Linked DNA regions of Homo sapiens. The protein of the gene in region 2 purifies or fractionates together with the protein of the main gene of each other region. This does not show direct contact. Each region holds a gene or a part of one and is shown on either strand. Other genes may lie near its edges. The genes, in order: MIX23 and TAMM41.

Region 1 (3,830 bases), about 110 Mb from region 2:
TATTAAAAGCAACGTTTGATTCTTTTTCCCTCAATATACTATGCTACTTCTTACCTTTGCCAAACTTAAATCCATGACTGAAACCAACTCCTTTCTTTCCTCGTCCATTTGTTAAAATAAAAATTATTATTATTATTACTTTCATTTTAGAAAAGTTAGAAAAAAACTTTAAATAAAAATCATCCATAGTTAACCATTATCAACATTTTAATATGTCCCTTTGGTCTTTTTTCTACACATACCTATTAATGTTTTTATACAACTGAGGTACTATGTAACATTTTAAAATCTGGCTTCAAGACATTATATTATGAGCATAATATAATGTTGCTAGAAATGTCTTGAAAGTTTTTTTTTTTTTGAGACAGGGTCTCACTCTGTTGCTCAGGCTGGAGTGCAGTGGCGCGATCTTGGCTCACTGTAACCTCTGCCTCCTGGGCTCAGGTGATCCTCCCACCTCAGCCCCTCAAATAGCTGCAACCACAGGCATGTGCAATACACCTTGCTAATTTTTTTGTATATTTTTGTAGAGAGAGGGTTTCACCACATGGCCCAGGCTGGTCTTGAACTCCTGGACTCAAGCGATCCACCGGCCTCAGCCTCCCAAAGTGCTGGGATTACAGGCAAAAGCCACCGCACCCAGCCCTGAAGATATTTTAAATAGTTGCGTTTAAGTATTCTATCCTGTTCAAGCACAACTCATTTGGCCACTTTCTCATTAACAAACATTTAGGTTGTTTCCAATTATAAACCATTTAGCCCATTCAATCTAAGTCTGTAGTCTAGATTCTGTTCTATCATTCCACTAATTTTTAATTAGTGAATTTAATGGCCTTTTCTATACCTCAATCTAGAAGTGAAACGGCTTGCAGAAGGCTCATAATTCAGACTAATAAAACACTAGCAAATATCAGGTCTAAAACCAAGTTCATTATCTTCTCGTCCTGTATCTTTCTATTTTTTTAATAGTATTCTCTGTAAACTGGAATTCTTAAGGAATAATCTCAATGCATTCATTGGGCAACCACCACACATAGTGAAGGATATATGTATTGTGCTTAAGTGGTAAATTCCAAACAAATGATGGCAGTACTATTTGGGAAGTCCAAAAAAAAAAATAGGTAAGTAGAAGACAGGGACCTACCTTGCCACTTTACCTCCTATGACTGGCCTATTTTTTTTTTTTTTTTTAAAAAAAAAGCCTCTTTAAATTCTCTTTCAAAACCTTCCTTTTCGCTATCTAAACTGAACTGATCTTCTGAGGCCAAGGGTTAAGTTGTGCCTTTTGGATAGAGGTTTCCTTGGTTATGAAAGCCCTCAGCAATATTTGTCTTTAAATAATGCAGCAGTAAGAGACAGTATCACAGAGCTCATTATTTATTAACTCATTCTTCATATAATTACTGTCATCCCTTAGTATCCATGGGGGTTTGGTTCCAGGTCCTCCTATGGTTAACAAAATCCAAGGATGCTCAAGTCCCTGATATAAAATGGCACAATATTTGTATATAACCTATGCACATCCTTCCATATACTTTAAATAATCTCTAGATTACTTATATCTAATACAATATAAATGCTATGTAAATAGGTGTTAGTTACACTGTATTGTGTAGGGTATGATAACAAGAAAAATGTCTGTACATGTTCAGTATGGATGCAACTTTTTTTTCAACTATCTTCGATCCACGGTTGATTGAATCCATGGATGTAAAACCCATAGATATGGGAGGGCCAACTGTCCTATGTCTAGCATGTGTCAGGCACCATTCAAAACATCAAGGCTACAGTAGCGAATAAAAGAGGTCCTTGCTCTTACAGAGCAAAATTCCTGAAGGGGGAGATAGAAATTAAACAAGTGTCCTATAAACAAGATAATCTCAGATACTAAAAAGTACTATGAAAAAGAAAACAAACTAAGGTGATGAGATGAAGAGTGACTGAGTGGTGCTTGGGGGCTACTTCAGATAGACATCAAAAAAGGCTTTTCTGAGGATGTAACATTTGCGCTAAAATCTAAATGACATGATTGAACCAACGATAGGAACATCTGGGCTGGGGGTGGTGGCTCATGCCTGTAATCCCAGCAATTTGAGAGGCTGAGGCAAGGTAGGAGGATTGCTTGAGCTGAGGAGGTTGAGGCACTGGTGAGCCATGATTGCACCACTGCACTCCAGCCTGGGCAACACAGCGAGACTCTGTCTAAAACAAACAAACAAACAAAAAAACTGGTAGCAGTAGAATTAAGGAGAGGTAGTTGGACTTAGGATATATTTTGAAGATAGAGCTAACAGAAATTGCTGAATTGGTGGTCAGGGACGAGAAAATAAAATAGCATGACTTCCAGGCTTGGGGCCTAAGCATCTAATTGTATGGAAGTGCCATTAACTTATGGTGGGGGAGACTGGGGAAGGAAGAGACTTGGAAAGAGTAGGAACATCAAGAGTTGTATTCTGACTCAGGCTATCTGGTGATTACTGTTCATTGTCTGTATGTGGCAATAGTATGGTGTTAGAAAGTTGTAATCTTTTGGAGATATAGACAGAAATTTTACAGAAAAAAATGATATGGTATTTGGGATGACCTCAAAATGATCGGATTAGGGTGGGATATGTGGTAGTAGCGAACAGATGAAACAAGAGTAGCCATGAATTAGTTAGTTGTTGGAGTTGGGGGATGGGTACATGAGTGTTTGTGGTACAGCCTTCTTTTGTGTTATGTTTAAAATCTTGTATAATAAAACTTTTTTTTAAAGTTTTGTTGTGGCAACAGATATTGGTAAGCATGCAGAGAAAAGGGAACGCTTATACACTGTTGACAGAAATGTAAATTAGTACAACCTCTATGGAATATGTGGAGACTTCTCAGAGAACCAACAACAGAACTACCATTTGACCCAGCAGTCCCACTACTGGGTACTTACCCAAAGGAAAATAAATCATTATATAAAAAACACACCTAGAGGATGGGCGCAGTGGCTCACGCCTGACTTTGGGAGGCCAAGGTGGGTGGATCATGAGGTCAGGAGTTCGAGATCAGCCTGACCAACATGGTGAAACCCCATCTCTACTAAAAATACAAAAATTAGACTGGCATGGTGGCGCGCACCTGTAATCCCAGCTACTTGGGGAGGCTGAGGCAGGAAAATCACTTGAACAAGGGAGGCAGAGGTTGCAGTGAGCCGAGATCGTGCCACTGCATTCCAGCCTGCCTGGGCAGCAGAGAGAGACTCCGTCTCAAAAAAAAAAAAAAAAAAAAAAAGACACCTGTACTTATATGTTGATCACAGCACTATTCACAGCAGCAAGCTAAGTGTCCATCAACAGTTGACTGGATAAAGAAAATATGGTGTACGTATACACACACATATATATAGAATACCATGCAGCCACAGAAAAGAATGAAATCATCCAGGCATGGTGGCTCACGTCTGTAATCCAGCACTTTGGGAGGCTGAGGTGGGTGGATCACCTGAGGTCAGGAGTTCAAGACCAGCTTGGACAACACGGTGAAACCCCATCTCTACTAAAAATACAAAAAAATAGCTGGGTGTGGTGGTAGGTGCCTGTAATCCTAACTATTTGGGACTCTGAGGCAGGAGAATAGCTTGAACCCAGGAGGTGGAGGTTGCAGTGAACCAAGATTGCACCATTGCACTCCAGCCTGGGAAACAAGAACGAAACTCTGTCTCCAAGTCTCCAAAAAAAGAAGAAAAATTATGAAATCATGTCCTTTGCAGCAACATGGATGGAGCTGGAGGCCATTAAGTGAAATAACTCAAAACAGAAAATCAAATACCAAATGTGCTTGCTTATAAATGGTAGCTAAAC
Region 2 (2,802 bases):
CCTTTGTCCATTTACTGGCTCTGGGATGGGCATGGCACCCAATCAGCATCCGTGAAACCAGACAGAGGCTTGCTAGGGGCTGTTGGGAAGGTTTCTTGCTTTTCTAAGAGGCCATCTGAAAGGAGTCTTCTCTGTGGCTCCCAGTTGTGATTTGGAAGCCCACAGCCCTTGAAGCTGCTGCCAGCAGTCTCATGACAGAGCAAAGCCAGCCTCAGCACGATGCTAACACTGCAGAGGGCAGAGAGATGGAGAGAAACTGGGGTACATGATTCTGTCCTTTGTTGTTCAAGGCACTCTGCAGTGGGTTTCCTGTTGCCCAAACACGTCCTAACTGTTACAATAAGGCAGGCTCTGCAAGGTGTCTGTTCCAGGCTCCTAACCCAAAAGTCACTGCCATACACTTTAGTGGAGAACAAAGAAACACACGAAAAGCCTAGATCCAGGGAAATGTTGACGTGACACTTGCGAGCCCCTGCTGGAAAAAAAACAAGTGAACAGGATGGAGACTAGAGACATAACAAGCCAGGCAGAGAAAGTCAAGCTTCCACACCCTGTAAGTTTCCTGGGCTACGTGTTGACAGCATACAAGAAATTTGTCATGTCTGACTCTCACGTACCTACAGAATGCAGGACAGGCAAAGCTATTCTGCAGGACCCACATGACTTTGTACATGGAGAGGGTTCTTTTCTTCTGATGCTAAGCCCTCTAATATATTTGGGTCCCAACTGGATAAATGTCTGATGCATACATTTAAAAAACCAAGTATTATGCAAACCAGGGTATCTTTGAATTCAAGCAATGGGTCAAAGTAACAAACACTGTTCTGTCAAAAAGGATCAAACACTTTATTCATCTACACATAACATATATAAAAGCAAGCAAAATCAGGATGTTTTCCTCAGCCACCCTTTCCACATTTTGTGCAGTTTTAGTGAACTATAAATCACTGACTTCTTCAGGCCTAAAAGAGAAAAGATGAGAAAGTAAGAAGATGGAGGCTTGTTGAGTGGATGCTCAGAGTTTCAGTGACATTCTGAGCAGACTTGTCTTTGGAGGAGGGCAGTGAGGGGCTGACCCGTGGCTCTAGGAGACCAGGGAGCTGAAGGTGATTAAAGGTCACTGTGATCAATGTAGGGGGAAATGATTCTGATTTCGGCATTTTCCGATTTAGGGCTATGGATGCCAACGGTTCCTAAGTTATTGGGATAAGTGATCCTTTTGAGTTATGAACATATTGGCAGCCTCTGAATTTAGCTCTTTCAAAAAGGTAGGACAAGGATAAGACTCTGTATGCCACTGGGTCCCCGTTCTCTCAGGCCTAAATTCCAACCCCACCTCACTGTCTCTATGTCACTGTGAAAGGCACCTGTCTGACTATGACAAATGCTGTTCCCATCACTTTCTGCCTCGTTGACTTGGAATCCCTGTTTGGATTTCTTCTCTAGGAAGTGCTTCCCTGGACCCACAGGGTGGCCCCACAGCATCTGTGCTCACTCAACACACTGTGCAGTACGTGTGGGCCGATTCACCCACGCCTCTGCCTGGACTGGGAGCTTCCTGAGGACAGGGACCTTGCCCTGTTCACCTAGGTGGCCCTGTCACCTAGTACAGGACCCAGAACACAGCAGGTGCTCTGTGAAAGCTTTTGAAATGACAAGACAAATGTGCCTCATTCGGAGAGCTGGCCCCCTAGCACCCCCATCTACTTAGTCAGGAGTGTGTGATGAAACTGGAGAAAGGCTCTCCGGGGGCTTAGGGGAAAGAAGAAAAAGGGAATAAAATAAATGGGTGTTATTTGTCAGATCTAAGAGTATCCTATCTGTGGATGCGATTATGGACTCAACTTCCTTTGTGTTGAGGGTGGGATCATTCAGTTTGTGTTTCAGGGTGTGGCCCAAAGATATGAACAGTCTTTTTCACTGTGAGACACAAACTGTGATCTGTGCTATGAGTGTAAAGTGCACACCCCTGGCAGTGCACTTTGGTGAGCATGCCGACAAGGTAACAGGTTTCGCTCTGGACATGCCTAGCACTGGGGTTTGAGTGATGGCTTGAAAATATCTGGCCCTGTTACCTGTAAACTGCTTAGTCCACTTAGAGCCTTGGAAAAGACCACTGCAGACAGTGGCAGGGGAGCAGTAAAATCATTAATGAATACTTCCAGACACTCTGGCTTCGTTTGTCTACCAGCTGACTACTTGCAAACCAACATAACCTAGTCAACAAACTCAGAGTTCCTTTCCCTGCCTCCACCCCTTTTAATTTTCTCCCTGGAGCAACCACTCTGGTAAACCCCACCCACTTCAGCATTGAGACTAGAAGCTTATTATATAAGGTGGTTTTTAAAATTCCAGCCAGAACCAACCAAAAGACCAAGCCGAATACAGGTAGTTATACATGGAAAGGTTCATATAGCAACCCCAGGGCACTGAGTCACAGCTAGAGGAGGATGCATGGGCCATGATAATTCCCAGCTCAACTTCAAAAAGCAGTTCCTGGATCTTAAACATTTAAGGTAAATACATAAAGTAGAAGAGTGTCACCATGTAGCCATTTTTTTTTTTTGTTGCTGCTAGTGGACAGAAATCTCCCTTGACTAAAACATTCTCCCTTTCATGGTTCTGCCAGTGAGACATTTTCAGAAAGACTGCAGCAGGGAAATCTGTTAGAAAGAGCACTAGAATCGGAGTCAAGAGACCTGGACTCTAGTTCCAGGTGGGCCACAAACTAACAGTGGCCTTTCCCTGGGCCTCAATTTCCTTATCTGTAAAATGACTGGGTTGGAATAGATGAGGGGTTCT

The links.
Region 1: the proteins of TAMM41 (region 2) and MIX23 purify together in Homo sapiens (co-immunoprecipitation; one large-scale study listed by IntAct). This does not show direct contact.

What each region holds. Positions count from the first base shown.
Region 1 is NC_000003.12:122,372,929-122,376,758, forward strand, and holds part of MIX23 (protein MIX23), read right to left. Parts: intron 95-3,830; exon of another isoform or gene 76-94; coding exon of another isoform or gene 55-75; intron 1-54.
Region 2 is NC_000003.12:11,789,620-11,792,421, forward strand, and holds the end of TAMM41 (phosphatidate cytidylyltransferase, mitochondrial isoform a precursor), read right to left. Parts: intron 963-2,802; coding exon 886-962; 3' UTR 823-885; downstream 1-822. UniProt on the Homo sapiens protein: Catalyzes the conversion of phosphatidic acid (PA) to CDP-diacylglycerol (CDP-DAG), an essential intermediate in the synthesis of phosphatidylglycerol, cardiolipin and phosphatidylinositol.